Linked DNA regions of Homo sapiens: region 2 is linked to region 1. The links come from fine-mapping of genetic effects on gene expression. A gene starts in region 1. The other region holds a variant in brackets. All regions are shown on one strand. Distances are between the middles of the regions.

Evidence for each region.
Region 2: its variant is fine-mapped to the expression of SERPINB9 in whole blood (TOPMed, PIP 0.91).

Annotation. Positions count from the first base shown.
Region 1 is chr6:2,900,085-2,908,213 of GRCh38, reverse strand. SERPINB9 (serpin family B member 9) reads left to right here and starts at 4,905. Exons shown (of 7, transcript NM_004155.6): 1 at 4,905-5,013; 2 at 7,593-7,770. The coding sequence starts at 7,603. SERPINB9-AS1 (SERPINB9 antisense RNA 1) reads right to left here. Exons shown (of 5, transcript NR_110841.1): 5 at 7,538-7,731. RefSeq lists enhancers at 1-451, 4,940-5,441 and silencers at 4,710-4,759, 4,860-4,939, 5,180-5,229.
Region 2 is chr6:2,851,858-2,859,986 of GRCh38, reverse strand. MIR4645 (microRNA 4645) reads left to right here and starts at 5,880; the gene lies at 5,880-5,956. It also overlaps the pseudogene SERPINB9P1. RefSeq lists enhancers at 829-1,408, 4,594-4,723, 4,784-4,843, 5,420-6,160, 7,456-7,645. The variant T/C (reference allele first, on the strand shown) is at 3,431.

The sequences.
Region 1 (8,129 bases):
GGCCTTTTCGATTTGACCTCAACATACGTTTCAAGGCTCATCTCCTGCTGCTGTGTTCTTCTTATCCCCCTCCCGACATACGTACTCGAGCACACACACACACACACACACAACCTCGACACACGTACTCGAGCGCACACACACACACAACCTCGACACACGTACTCGAGCACACACACACACAACCTTGACACACGTACTCGAGCACACACACACACCTCGACACACGTACTCGAGCACACACACACAACCTCGACACGTACTTGAGCACACACACACCTCGACACACGTACTCGAGCACACACACACAACCTCGACACACGTACTCGAGCACACACACACAACCTCGACACGTACTCGAGCACACACACACACAACCTCGACACACGTACTCGAGCACACACCTCGACACACGTACTCGAGCACACACACAACCTCGACACACGTACTCGAGCACACACACACAACCTCGACACACGTACTCGAGCACACACACACAACCTCGACACACGTACTCGAGCACACACACAACCTCGACACACGTACTCAAGCGCACACACACAACCTCGACACACGTACTCGAGCACACACACACACAACCTCAACACACGTACTCGAGCACACACAACATCGACACACGTACTCGAGCACACACACAACCTCGACACACGTACTCGAGCACACACACACAACCTGGACACACATACTCGAGCACACACACACACACACACAACCTCGACACACATACTCGAGCGCACACACACACACAACCTGGACACACATACTTGAGCGCGCGCACACACACACACAACTTTGACACACATACTCGAGCACACACACACACACAACCTGGACACACATACTCGAGCACACACACACAACCTCGACACACGTACTCGAGCACACACACAACCTTGACACACGTACTCGAGCACACACAACCTTGACACACGTACTCGAGCACACACACACACAACCTCGACACACGTACTCGAGCACACACACACACACACACACACAACCTCGACACACATACTCGAGCGCGCACACACACACACACACAACCTCCAGACCCTTCCAAGTCCATCTTCAGGGACCTTCCTTGGTCCCTGTTCTCTCAAGCCACCTGGATGATGCAGATCTGAAATGCCGTTTCCCTGTTTGCCCACTTGCAGATCTCTATTTCTTGATCATCTAATCCCAGTATGAAGCCTTTCAATCATTCAACAAATACGCTTCAGCAAATACAGTTGTCTCTTGGTATCTGATTGATTCCAGGATCCTAGCGAACATTGAGCTCTGCGGATCCTCAAGTCCCTAATATAACATGGCGTAGTGTTTGCATATAACCTATGCAAATGTAACCTGTGTAACATCCTCCCATACGCTTGAAATCATCTCTAGATTATGTATAATACCTAATACAATGTAAATGCTGTACAAATAGCCGTTATACTGTATTGTTTTAAATTTTGTATTATTTTTTGATTTTTTAAAAAATTTTTCCATCTGCAGTTGGTTGAATCTGTGGATGTGGAACCTGAGGTACCGGTGGCCAAATGTACAGTGTGCTAATATAAAAATTAGTAAAGGAGGGTTAGGCTGTCCTGAGGCTCGCAGTCCGGTGTGGGAGACAGAAGATTTAGTGGAAAGTCCCTGTGGAGCTTAAGTGTTGGGCTGGGCCATTCTAGGGGTGTTCAGGGCACCTTGGAAGTACCTCAGTGTGCTCGCCGTCTCTCCCTCAGACTGCTGCCCTCTTGGGCCAGATATTGTGTCTTCAACTTGGTACCAAGTTCCCAGCAAGTGCCAAGCCAAGCCCATGGCAGGAAGCGAATTATTTTTTGTTAACTGAATGCATGAGTCTTAGAATGGAACCTGACTGTGTCACAAGCATGATAGGAACATGTTGGGGGCAGGGAAATGTTTTCAAAGTTGTGGAAACCTTTGCAGAATGAATAGGGCCACGCTCCATATTTTGCTCTTTGCAGGACTTTAAGGAAGTGTGTCAAATGCCCACAGGTAGAGCTGGAAAATGTGGCCTTTGCTAAAGATGCAGAAGAGTCTAGAGACGCACAACGGCTGGGTCATTGGTGGTGAGGGACTTTATTTGCAGTGAACTTGGAGCTAGGAAGGAAGTTACTGCTGGGTGGGTCCTCAGTGACGGAGGTCTGCTTACACGTTTGCCAGGTTTTCAGGCCAGCAACATGATTCTGTCATTTCTCTTGGGCTTGTCTGATCATGAAGTAGTGATTTTTGAAAAATCCTTGGACCTGGTGTGAGGATCAAAGACTCCCTTCCTCCGGACAGTGTTGGAAAATCCTGGAAAAATGCTTCCTCTGGGGCCCTGTGTATTTTCTATCTGGGAAAACCATGATGAGCAATCAGATAAAGAAATATTTTTGTGATATGTTGTGACTTTCTTAAAGTAATAAAGTAGAAGAGATTTTAAATGAAAAATATAGGTAATTGCAAAATCTCTTGATTCTTAGCTATTTCTGAACAGATTTCATGCCCCACCCCCCCATACAATTTTTAGTGGGGGAAAGAGGAGAAAGGAAAGGAAAAGCTAAAATAACCTTGTTTTCATAGTTCTGTGTTTTTATCCTTTCCTAAACCCATTTTCCATCGCTGGTCACATGATTTGGATTGAAAGGACGTTTCCTCTAGGCCTCGGAGCACAGAGGCAGCTAACATGTTTGCACTATGCCATCATGGTCCACGTTTACTCAGACACTTTCTTGCAATGGCACTGACAACGATGCCCCCATTTGTTGCCTTAAAATTCATGGGTATGGCCAGGCACAGTGGTTCACGCCTGTAATCCCAGCACTTTGGGAGGCTGAGGCGGGAGGATCACCTGATGTCAGGAGTTCGTGACCAGCCTGGCCAACATGGTGAAACCCCATCTCTACTAAAAATACAAAAATTAGCTGGGTATGGTGATGCATGCCTATAGTCCCAGCTACTTGGGAGGCTGAGGCAGGAGAATCGCTGGAATTGGGAGGTGGAGGTTGCAGTGAGCCAAGATCACGCCATTGTTCTCCAGCCTAGGCGATAGAGCAAGACTCCACCTCAAAAAAATAAATAAGTGGATAAATAAATAACAGCTTTTTGTTTAATCAATTGTCTCTATCATTATAAAGTTTTCTATATCATTGATTTATTCTCTAATCTTTATTATTTCTTCTTTTCTACTGATTATGTGTTCAATGTATTTATACTTTTTCTAGTTTTTGAAGGTAGAAACTGAGGTCATTGATTTGAAGCCTTTCTCCTCTCCTAATATAGGCATTTCATGCTGCAAAATTTCCCCAAAGCTGACTTAATAACATCCTACAAATTTTGATGTTTTTATTTTCATTTTTTATTAATTTCAAAATACATTCTAATTTCCCTTTTGATTTTATAATATTTTTATAAGTATTATTCAGTTATAAAAAGAAATAAAGTACTAACAAATGCTACCTGGAACCATCAAGAATGACCCTTGAAAACATTATGCTAAGTGAAAGAAGGCAGTCAGGAAAGACCACATATTGTATGATTCAATTTGCATGAAATCTTCACAGTCGGTCAATCCGCAGGGCCAGAAAAGAAATCTGGAGGTCGGAGCCTCTCCCAGAAGCCAGGGGTTGTGGGAAGGAGGAAATGGAGAATAATTGCTAATGGGTATCACAGTTCCTTTTAGGGTGATGAAAACCTTCTGGAGTTAGATAGTGGTGAGAGTTGGACAGCTTTGTCAATATACCAAGAACTATTGAATTGTATGCTTTAAAAGGATGCATATTATGGTCCGTGAATTGTCTTTTAATAAAGGTTTTATTTTTAAAAACAAGCTAGGCACCTAGGGTGTCAAATTGAAGGAGGCTCTGATTCTCAGGGCCGCGCAAATGCAGGGTTGGCACCTATGCGTGTGGCCCTCCTGAAATTTTGTGCCTTAGGCACCTGCCTTGCTTCTCCCTAATTCAGGCCCTCAGGAGAAAGCTCTAATTCTGGTCAATTTGAAACAGGAGGGCACGGCTTCTGGGCGACGCTCCGTGCTCCAGAGAGAGCCATTTGTCTGTTCCCTTCCTCTGGACGTCACCGTGCCAACATGAAATGCTTCCAATTGAGTCCAGCCTGAGATGGAAGGGGGTGGGGGGATATCTGATGACATCACGAACTGCTGCATCAACTCCCCCGAGTCCCTGCCTCTGGACCCCCTGATAGAGGACACAAGGAGTGTCCTGAGCCCGTGTGACTCAGTGTCTCTTCCCATCACTTTGCGGGAAAATGGGGCTGCTTACACCACACCGCAGCCCAAACACCTGTGGCTAGAGAAGGGCTTGGGTACTAGGAGTGAGGACGCCTGGTTCTGGGCCCAGGACTAGTACTAGTTAGTGGTGGGACCTGGAACAAATGCTTTGGTTCTAAGTGAATCCCCCATATTCATGACAAGAGGCGTGGAACACAGACCCATGGGACCTTCCCACTGGAACACGGAGCTTGGCTGTCACCCGACCTTCGCTTCCTTAAGTACAAAAGCCCAGGGTTCCAGGCTCCGTCTCCTTTCCCGCAGACGCCTTGTTTCTTCGCGCGGAGGCCCTGGACGCCGCAGGCTCCCAACCTACTTCTCTGGGCTGTCAGGTTCTGAACCCGGTCCTGAAGAGGCCCTGGCGCCGGGGGTGGGTGAGGCCGAGCGCGCGCCTTGGGAACCTGGCCGGCCTCAGGCTGGCGGGAGCATTGGCGGACATCGCCCCGGGCGGGGCGGACTGGGGGGACCCTGACCTGACCCTGCTCCCAGCTCTGACCTCGGCCACCACGCGCGGCGCCCCCGCTGGTCCCGCCAGGCTCCGCCTAAACGCAGAAAGCGTGGGAGGCGCCCGACCCTGCGGTATAAAAGCGGTGCCTGCAGAGGCCCTAGCGGGAGTCCGCGGCGAGCGCAGCAGCAGGGCCGGGTCCTGCGCCTCGGGGGTCGGCGTCCAGGCTCGGAGCGCGGCACGGAGACGGCGGCAGCGCTGGACTAGGTGGCAGGTGAGGGCGTCCCCGCGCACGGCTGGGGTAGGGGACGGGAGTGGCGAGCTTCAGGTCCACCGGCTGCCACCGAGTGATGGGACCGGAGGACAGGAGAGGTCGCTCAGCCAAGAGCCCCGGGGAGGCGGTGCCTTCTCGGTGGGGTCAGCAACGGTCTCTGGGGGGTGCCTGGGAGCGGCAGCCGGTCTCCGCCTTGGCGGCCCACAGCCACCGCGGACGCCTCCCTCCCGGATGTCTCCTCGCTGCCCTTCCCTGGCCGAAGCCCTCCCCTGCAGCCTCCTCCCCACCTGCCGGCCCTGTGTTCTCACTGCTCTTCTCTGCTCTGGGATCCGCAGGATGACGTCTGTCCTGCTTCTTCACTGTCCTTTACAGTCACCAGTCTCGGCCGGGCGCAGTGGCTCACGCCTGTAATCCCAGCACTTTGGGAGGCCAAGGCGGTCGGATCCTTGGAGATCAGGAGTTCGAGACCAGTCTGGCAAACGTGGTGAAAACCGGTCTCTACTAAAAATACAGAAATTAGCCGGGCATGGTGGCCCACGCCTGTAATAATGTCAGCTATGTGCTGAGGCAGGAAAATCACTTCAACTCGGGAGGCAGAGGTTGCAGTGAGCTGGGATTGCGCCACTGCACTCCAGCCTGGCAGACAGAGTGAGACTTCGTCTCAAAACAAAAAAAAGAAAAACACAAAAAAACCACCACCAACAACAACAAAAAAATAAAGCCACCAGTCTCGGAGTTTCAAATCTGAGCACTCTTATCCATCTTAATTCTTTCAATAATTCAGCTAAACGAATGGGGTCCTGAGAATCTGCAGAGCCAGGCTCAGCGCTCGCCTGCAGAGCCTGCGGTCTGTGGGGACCACCAGCAAGATGAGGAATCACCTTCGGGAGGAAGGGTCGTGCTGGGGAGGGTCGCGCCGGCGGGGTCAAGAGAACCTCCTCCAGGGTGGGAATCAGAGCCTCCGGGCCGCGGTGTTTGAGGGTGAGTGGAATTAATGCCGTGATGGACATGGGGCCTTCTAAGGGGGACCAACAGTGTTTGTGAAGAGTTGACTTTGGGAGGGGTTCAGGATGGCCAGAGGTGGAGGCTGTGACCTCAGTGAGTCTGGATCAAGGGAGGGGGCAGGTGGGTAAGACACCGTTTTAACAAGGTGGCTTTGAGCGGCCACCTTTGAGGGGCCTAAGGGCCCCTGGGAGATTTAGGAGGAAGGACAAGAGGATTAAGACACCGCTTTCTGAGGTGCCGTGTGGCTGTGGCGTGGGGGTGGCTGGGGGAGTGGGTTGTGTTCATTGTCCAAGGCTCTCCAGCGCTTTGCGTGGCGTTTTGGGGAGCACAGATGAGGTGTCCCGACAGTGGGGAGTGGCTCTAGGGAGACCAGAGGCTCGGGAGGGGGCCTGGGCATTAGACCAGGCACAGAATCCGAAGTGGGAAGAAATGTGGGCGTAGAGGGCAGGCCTTGGGGATGGGTGTGGGGGAGGAGGGGGAGATGGAAAGGAGTCAGGGAGGTCTCCCAGGCTCACCTGGAGGAGTCAGGGTCTCATTTCCAAGTGCACTGGGAACTGCAGCCTGGGGGTGGGGGTTCATTTGGTTTCAGGCCTGTGGCCAAGAGACCCACCCCCTCACATTCACACTTTGGTCTCCAGTGGCTTCACAGGCACCACCTCCTTGTTCTCGCCTGTTTTACTCCTCACCTTGGGCTGTTTCTTGCCTTTCCATTCTGGCGTTCTGCAGGGATCAGATCCTTCCTCTCACGCACAATCTACACTCATGGCTTTTGCTGGGAGTAATGAGTAAAGCTCCCAAATAGATGTTTCTGAGTTAGGAAGCACATTAAAAACAAAACAAAACGAAGCAAAACCACACAATTGTCCAAGTCCCACTCTGTGTTCAAGGGTCACATGATGTGCAGAAGCTGGTGATGGGCAGGAGCTCTGAATGGAGTTACTGGGATGTCAGGCCGCGTGGGCCTGGGGCAGGCTGGCTGACTGGGAGCAGCCTGGCTCCACCCCGGCTGTCCAGGACGCACTCACTTGCCTCTATGGATGACAGCTCCTTGCCTCACAGCTGTCTGTCTCTGGGTCAGATTCAGCATCTCAGTGTCTTTTGTGTATCAGCTGAATGTCAGGGAGGCCACAGGCTGGTGCCCAGTTGAAAATCTCACAAGGACTCTTTGTAAATGCATGCAAGAATAAGAACAGCATTTTCCTCCTCCTCCCTGACCCCATTCTCCTCCTCAGATGGGACGATCTGGTCCTTACGGAAAGAATTGGAGTTCACTGCTTCCAGCTCTGTGTGTGTGTGTGTGTGTGTGTGTGAGAGAGCGAGCTCTGCAGGCGAGCCAGTTCTGTTGCTATTGCTGGTTTGAGCTGCTGCCATCACCACACTTAGCTAATTACCTTAACATTTGCACTTAATTTTTGGCCGGAGACTAACAGAAAATAAATTTTTCTCCAATTTAAAATACTTACGAACTTTAAGAAGAAAACAAAAAGTACGATTCCAAAATTGCCCTGTAGTAAGTAGGTCAGTAACATTCAGGGAGTGTGGAAACTGCATTTCTCTTTATTCTTCCCTTCCAGGCCCTGCATCATGGAAACTCTTTCTAATGCAAGTGGTACTTTTGCCATACGCCTTTTAAAGATACTGTGTCAAGATAACCCTTCGCACAACGTGTTCTGTTCTCCTGTGAGCATCTCCTCTGCCCTGGCCATGGTTCTCCTAGGGGCAAAGGGAAACACCGCAACCCAGATGGCCCAGGTAAGCTTGCCCGTCCGCCAGGAGCAGGGACTGGCCTGGGCTGCGTGTTCTGTCACCAGCTTCACACTCACACTCCAGAGCCACTGAGAAAGGAGGGCAGGACTGGGGCCCGAGTGTGCACTGGCCGTTTCAGGGAGGCGGGGTCCACTGGGGAAGAAGTGGGGCAGGGCAGGGAGGCAGGAACTCTGCTCCACCGAGATTTATTTGGGGGAAACTTTCCTCGGTTAATCCCTTGGAAAAGACCATCCAAGCTGTCTTGTCCTAGCGCAGAATCTTTCTTTAGAAAATGACACTGAAATTATTTGAAACATAAGTTGCAAAGAACTACCTCTTTTTTGGAGCAAGAGACTTTGTAACTA
Region 2 (8,129 bases), 48 kb after region 1:
ACTGCCAGCACGCTGTCACCTCCCACTTTGACCAACGTCTCCCCATTCCCGTGTTCCCCAGCCCCAGGCAAGCCGCTTTCTACTCTCTGCTTTCATGAGTTCTAGTTTAGATTCCAGATATCAATGAAATCATTCAGTATTTGTCTTTCTGTGCCTGGGCCTGGTTTATTTCACTTAGCATAATGTTTTCTAAGTTCATCCATGTCGAAAATGACAATTTTTTTTTAAGATTGGATAATATTCCACCAGATATATGTATACCACACTTTCTGTAGCCATTCATTCATGGACAGACACTTGGCTTGTTTTCATATCTTGGCCATTGTGAATAGTGCTCCAATGAACATGGGAGTGTAGATACCACTTCAAGGTAAGGATTTCATTTCCTTTGGAGATATACCCAGTAGTGAAATTGCTGGATCATACGGTAATTCTATTTTTAATTTTTTGCGGGACTTCCATACTGTTTCCCTGAATGCTTGTACTAATTTAAATTCCCAGCAACAGTGTGCAGGTGTTCCCTTCCTCCACATCTGGACCAGCCCTTGTTATCTTACTTGTTTTTTTTTAAATTTATTTATCATGTTATTTGATTTTTAGAACAACTCTAAGCCATGGACAAAGCGGAAGCCATTACCTTCCTTTCACAAATGAGGAATGGAGGACAAAGGTTTAGAAACCTTTGTCCACTAGACACTTGACACTAGACACTTGTCTAAGATCACACAGATAGGAGACTTAAATTTAGATGTTTGATGACGCAGAGATACAGACAACAGGAAGAGGATGGAGGTTAAACCCAAAAGCTCAAGCAAAGGGCTGCTGAGCTGAGCATCTGTGAGGCTGTACTACACTGAAGGGCCTGCATGAGCGACGGTGTGGAGGGAGAAGACCCATAAGACAGTTACCAGAGGGACCAGCCCAGACAGAGAAGGGGCAGGGGACAGAGCCATTCAGCTGGAGCCATACTGAAGAGGAGTTGGAACTTTTTCCAGGGCCATCATTTATGATCAGTGGAGTCACATGATCTCCTTGGAGGCTGGGACACTGCTTAATCCTTTCTCATCTCCCCAGAACCTAACCTGATATTTGGCACTGTAATAGAAAGTGCACAACAAATGTTTATTGTCCAAACCAGCGGGGATCTCTGGCTCCGAGGATGATCTGGCAGCAGAAGGAGGCTGGTTTGGGTGTGGGGAAGAGGTAGGGTGGGTCAAACAGAGGTGGGGCCATGAGAAAGGGGCATTCACTCAGAGAACCACTGTCAGCTGGAGAAAAACAAAATGAAACCAAACTATTTTTCCCAGGCCTTGAGGCAGAACTTTCTTTTTCTAGAAGCCAGATGAAAGAAAGAAGAGACCAGGCATGGTGGCTTATGCCTGTAATCCCAGCACTTTGGGAGGCTGGGGTGGGCAGATCACAAGGTCAAGAGATCAAGACCAGCCTGACCAATATGGTGAAACCCCATCTCTACTAACATTACAAAAATTAGCCAGGCATGGTTGCGTGTGCCTGTAATCCCAGCTACTCGGGAGGCTGAGGCAGGAGAATTGCTTGAACCCGGGAGGCAGAGGTCGCAGTGAGCCCAGATCCCGCCACTGCACTCCAGGCTGGGAAACAAAGCAAGCCTCTGGCTCAAAAAAAAAAAAAAAAAAAGTACAGGAAGCAGAGAGGGGGTGAGAGGAAGGGAGAAACAGGGTGGAAGGGGGAGGGGGAGGGAGAGGGGGAGACAGGAAGAGGAGCAAAGATAGCAATTCTTAAGGCCTGTTATCTATTAGTTACCCTTGCCTTGGCGGCAGACACAGCTGAGTCCTAACGCAGACTTTTCCATATCCCCTCTCCCGCCTCAACAGTGATCTCTCCTCCCACTTCGAGAGTTAATTCAGTGCTGCTTTAGCTTTACGCCCCCATGAAAACAGGAAAACGGTTTGCAGCTTTATCATAACCTTGCTTATGTCTGTTGTTGTATGTCTCAAATACCCTGTCCTCAGGAAGGCCCACCAACGCTGGCCGGCCTCCAAGCACCCGGGCCTCTGCTCATGTACAGCTCCTGAACTGCCCTGCCTCTGAGTTACTGTAAGTCCCCGCCCACTCGAGAGCACACGACCAGTCTCACCCCCAATTTTAAAATGGCAGCCCCCTTGCCTTTATTTATAGACAGGTGCTTTCCAATCCTTAAGTGATTTTTTAGTGAACAGGTCATAAAGTTTCCTGTCATGGCATGAGGTGGAGGGGACAGCCCTCAGAGAGGGGTGTGGGGACCGTGGCTGGCGGTCACATCACACCGGCCTCTCCCGCCTGCAGCCTTGCCCTTTGCAGATGACTCAGGTGGGGAAAGCTCAGAAGGAAAGCCACCAAGTCCGGATGCCCCACCCCACACGCAGAATCTAGCTTCTCAGGGAAAGCAAGAAGGGGATGCTTCAGGGGACTTTGCTGAGGCCAACCTTTGGCATCTTTTTTGAAAAGACATTTGTGTCCGTTTGCTCATTTTTTTCATGATCAAGGAGGGTCCTCCCAGGCTGCCCTTGGCGGACCCCTTTCCTTGTACCCCGTCCACCTTGTCCTCTGGCTTCCAGCGGGTCCACTCCTCTTTCCTGCTTCCTAAACCTCGCCCAGAGCCTGCGACCCTCTCACCCTGGCCCAAACTCCCAGACACAGATTTGCAGCAGCGCAGCCAATGATGTTTTCTTTATGTGACTTCCTGGGACACTGCTTAGTGCCTCCTCCCATGTCTTCCTTGGGCTGCAGCATCTCTCAGGGCTCACAGAGGCCCCTCTAACTCCAAGGGGACTTCTTGGTCTGTTTCACAGGCCAGGAGACGGTGTTCGGATACATCCCCGCTGTATGTTTCATCCATGGCAGTCTGGCCTTCCCATGAAGAGCCTCTGTGTGAGCAAATTGAAAATAGGGCTTCTTGCCCCAACCTTCCATGGAAATGGCTATGGTTTCAGTCTCCATAAAGGTTACTTGCTCTTTTTCTGAAAATCCAAAAGGACAGTGTTAACTCTTTGTACAAATTGCACTGGCCATTTGGTCTTAGCGCAAACTTTTTGGACCATGTTTCATTTTCGTTTTGAGGTGAAAGAAAATATCAAAGCCTCCTAGCATTTTGAAACTCCTCAAATATCAAGTGCAAAACTGCTGATGGGATCAAAGATGCCGGCTAAATTCTTGGCCAATAAGATAAGACTCTTTCCTGTCAACTGACAAGCAATACATGAATATGTGCAGGGTAGCTGATAATCTATGAAATTATCGGCTGGGTACAGTGGCTCACGCCTGTAATCTCAGCACTTTGGGAGGCCAAGGTGGGTGGATCACCTTAGGTCAGGAGTTCGAGACCAGCCTGGCCAACATGCTGAAACCCTGTCTCTACTAGAAATACAAAAATTAGCCAGGCATGGTGGCAGGCACCTGTAGTCCCAGATAC[T/C]TGGGGAGGCTGAGGCAGGAGAATGGCTTGAACTCGGGAGGTGGAGCTTGCAGTGAGCCAAGATCGTGCCACTGCACTCCAGCCTGGGCAACAGGGTGAGACTCCATCTAAAAAAAAAAGAAAAAAAAGAAATTACCACCAATTACTAACTAGTAACTAATAAGTTACTTGAAATGAACTTGATCCTTGTCTTAAACCAGTGGTGGGGTACAGGAAACTTGAAGATTCTTGAGCTGCAGCCCTGTTTTGATTTGTAGTTTTTGTTGCAATATACACCTCTCTACTAGGCACAGGTGACACATGGGAGCTTGTGTCGACATGTGGGAGCCCTGTACAGGGTCCAGACCTTGAGGTGCCAGGCAGCAGAGCCTGTGGCTGGGAATGGGGGTGCGTGGGGCTTATCTTGGGCCTCACATAGGGCCTCAAAGTTAAAATGTTGAAATTATTTCCTAGTAATCTTACTATACTTAGAGTCACAGAGACAGATACACTGAAAAGACGGACAGAAATTACTTTAATGATAAAAGTTAAGCTCATGTTCCATGAAAGAAATGCCATAAGAATGTTTTCTAAATCCTATGCTTAACTTCGGAATAGCGCAATTAGATTGCATTGCATTTTTGAAAGATCACTTGTTAAATACAAAATTTTAAAACATACCACAATATTTGGCACTTCATTTTCTTTATTAAACAAGGAGACTCAGAAAATCATAGTGGCCTGGGCCCATGTGAACCTCTGTGAAAGCCTCCCACAGGGAGAGAGGACTGGGATGCCATGGTCCTAGGTGGGAATGGGGGGAGCAGTGTAGGCCTCGGTGCGGACCCAATGCTGGGGCCCTAAGGCTCTCTCCTCTTTTCTTCCAGGTGGAAAATGAGCTTATATATGAAGAAGTCAGCGAGTGGACAAAGCCAGGCGCAATGGATAGCAAAGATGTGGAAGTCTCCTCGATTCAAGTTACAAGAAAACCGCAGCATGGAGTCTGCTCTCAGCTGTTGGGGAATTACCGATGCCTTTGACTAAGTCAAGACTGACTTTTCCAGAATATCACCCAAGAGATAGAGCCGTCCCTGTCCAAGTTTGTGCGCTAGCCCTTCATGGAGGTCAGAGAGGAAGAAACAAAGGCAGCTGTGGCCTCGGCGGTCACAGTGTCAGAACGCACAAGCCCCATAAAGAGGTTTCACGCAGGCCACCCATCCCTTTTCATTCTCCAGCAGAACAGGACAGAGAGCGTTCTGTTCTGCGGAAGGTCTTCCACTCTACAAGGCAATCCCTCCAGCTGCTTTGCTGTATTGTGCTGTCTCCTGTCACACTATGAATGCAGTGACCTCAGCCAGCAACAGGGAGAACCCCCCTGCCTCCCGAACAAAGGACCTCACGTGAAATCCTGAGCTCAGAGCTTACAGATATGTGTGCGCTTTCACTTTACATCGGCCGTGACTTCCAAACAACTTCAGGAAACTTTAGGATCTCTGAGGTATACTGGAGATGACAGCAGCGTAGAATGTTCATTTGGATTTAGAACAGAAATGCTTATTTTATATTTGGCTGCTCCCAAACTGTCCCCAGACTTCCTCTCCAGTGGTTACCCTCCACTGCCCTGGATGTCCCACGTTTACACTCCACACTCACACCTCCACCTTAACAAAGTCCTCCACTGGGTCAAACCATACATCGCTTCGTCTCTGTAGTGATGACTTCCTGTCCTCTGCTCTGTGGATAAAGACCCCAGATAAAGATGCCTGTGTTGCTCAACTCTTGTAAATACTCTTGAGACATTTTGAAAGCAGAAGGAAAGGAGACAGACGGGGAAAATAAAAGGGATGGTCTGCTTGTGCGGAAACGTTTTGAGAATGCCCTTCCCTAAGAGAGAACAGTAAAAGTGAGCAATACTTCCTGAGCTGTGGGTTCATATGGCTGGACTGTGCTGTTTCTCACGGGAGAAGTTCTCGTCTCCCCTGCGTGTACATCCCTGTTTGCCAGCCTGGCCTTCGGTGTGGTGATATCATGGTGCACTCCCAGGAGGGAAGTGCTTGGTCAAGACTTCTGCTTGGGTTCGACTATCAGTTCTGGTTTCCTTTAAGGCACAGGATCTTCCCTTTAAGGCACAAACACCCCCTTGACACAAAGTAAGGGACAAGGGAACTTTAAACCATTTGGAAACCCAAGCACAATAGGCTGTAGGTTGTAAAAAGAAATTACAAAGGTAATTTTATCCAGAAGAGGGAGCAGTTTAACTTCTGCAGGGTAAGATTCAGATTCACTTTTGTAACTGAACAGGGAATTTTCTAAATATTTTGAAAATGCCGAAACATTTCCTGTTGGCATTTCACAGAAACGTTCAAAGTTCCCTAATGATAGTTTCCGCTGTGCTCACTCCGGAGGCTGCTAAGCAACCTCAGTAATTAGCTCGATTGAGGAAACGAAACTGTGGGGGACTCAGTTTCCATGATAGGGAAACCAGGCAAGAAATATTGTCTCCTCAAGTTGCGACGAGACAGTAGTTCTTGCCTGGTTTCTCTATCATGGAGTCTTGGTTGGACTCTGCTATGCGTCTCTTGATGAAATGTGATACTAGCAATTGAACAATTAAGAAAATGGATGGCGGGGGGTGGAGCGGTTTGTCACTACTGGAGTTGCAGAGGCTCAGTGGGGGAACCTGAGAAACACTGCGTCCCCCAGGTCATCACCGCGTCAGCACTGATGAGTCATGTTGATGGCATGGACCCTGAATATGACACAATGAGATGTCACTTTACCTCTGTGGCCTTTCCCAGAAAAAACCATAACCCCAGTCTAACCATGAGAAAAATATAAGACAATGGTGCAGGCAGGGCATTTCAGGAGAGGGTCAGGTAAAGGGGAGGGGGTCCCAGGAGAGGGTCAGGGGAGGGGACTTCAGGAGAGGGACAGGGAGAGGGGAGGGGGCTCCAGGAGAGGGTCAGGGAAAGGGGAGGGGGTCCCAGGAGAGGGTCAGGGAAAGGGGAGGGGGGTCCCAGGTGAGGGTCAGGGGAGGGGACTTCAGGAGAGGGACAGGGAGAGGGGAGGGGGCTCCAGGAGAGGGTCAGGGAAAGGGGAGGGGACTTCAGGTGAGGGTCAGGGAAAGGCGAGGGGGTCCCAGGACAGGGTCAGGGGAGGGGACTTCAGGAGAGGGACAGGGAGGGGGGAGGGGGGCTCCAGGAGAGGGTCAGGGATAGGGGAGGGGGGTCCCAGGAGAGGATCAGGGGAAGGGGTGGGGCTTCAGGAGAGGGTCTGAGAACACACAGGCAGGCAACACCTTAAAATCCCATCTCAGTCAGCAATGACTCCTCATAGGGCCACCACGAGCTTAAATGTCACTTAAATGTCCCTATTTGCCAGCCTGGACTTCGGTGTGGTGATATCATGGTGCATTCCCAGGAGGGAAGTGCTTGGTCAAGACTTCTGCTTGGGTTCGACTGTCGGTTCTGGTTTCACATGCACTGTGTGAACACGCTTCATACAGAGGGTCAGCACCGCACTGTGTGAACATGCTTCATGCAGAGAGCCTGTACTGCACCAGGTGAACACACTTCATACAGAGAGTCAGCACCGCACCGTGTGAACATGCTTCATACAGAGAGTCAGCACCGCACTGTGTGAACACGCTTCATACAGAGAGTCAGCACCGCACCGTGTGAACACACTTCATACAGAGAGTCAGTACTGCACCGTGTGAACATGCTTCATACAGAAGATCAGCACCTCACTGTGTGAACACACTTCATACAGAAGGTCAGCAATGCACCGTGTGAACACACTTCATACAGAGAGTCAGCACTGCACTGTGTGAACATGCTTCATACAGAAGATCAGCACCTCACTGCGTGAACATGTGTTATACAGAGAGTCAGCACCGCACCGCGTGAACATCCTTCATACAGGTCAGCACTGCACCATGTGAACACACTTCAAACAGAGAGTCAGTACTGCACCATGTGAACATGCTTCATACAGAAGATCAGCACCTCACTCTGTGAACATGTGTCATACAGAAGGTCAGCACTGCACTGTGTGAACACGCTTCATACAGAAGGTCAGCACCGCATTGTGTGAACATGTGTCATACAGAGAGTCAGCACCGCACCGTGTGAACACGCTTCATACAGAGGGTCAGCACCGCATTGTGTGAACATGCTTCATACATGAGGTCAGCACCTCATTGTGTGAACACACTTCATACAGAGTCAGCACTGCACTACGTGAACATGCTTCATACAGAGGGTCAGCACCTCACTGTGTGAACATGTGTCATACAGAGAGTCAGCACTGCACCGTGTGAACATGCTTCATACAGAGGGTCGGGTCAGCACCGCACTGTGTGAACATGCTTCATGCAGAGAGTCTGTCCTGCACCAGGTGAACACGCTTCATACAGAGAGTCAGCACCGCACCGTGTGAACACGCTTCATACAGAGGGTCAGCACCGCACTGTGTGAACACACTTCACACAGAGGGTCTGTACCACATTCCGTCAACATGTGTCAGCACCATACCATGTGAACACGCTTGGTACAGTGATATACATGCATGTGGCAGAGCTGTGAAATTATGACCTGCTGCAGACAGACTTTGTACACTGTGCTATCAGCCAACTGGGCAAATGTGGACAAGAGTCCCTGCATGTCTCTATTCACCAGGTGTCTGTCAAATGAAATGGGCTGAACTGGATAATGGCAGG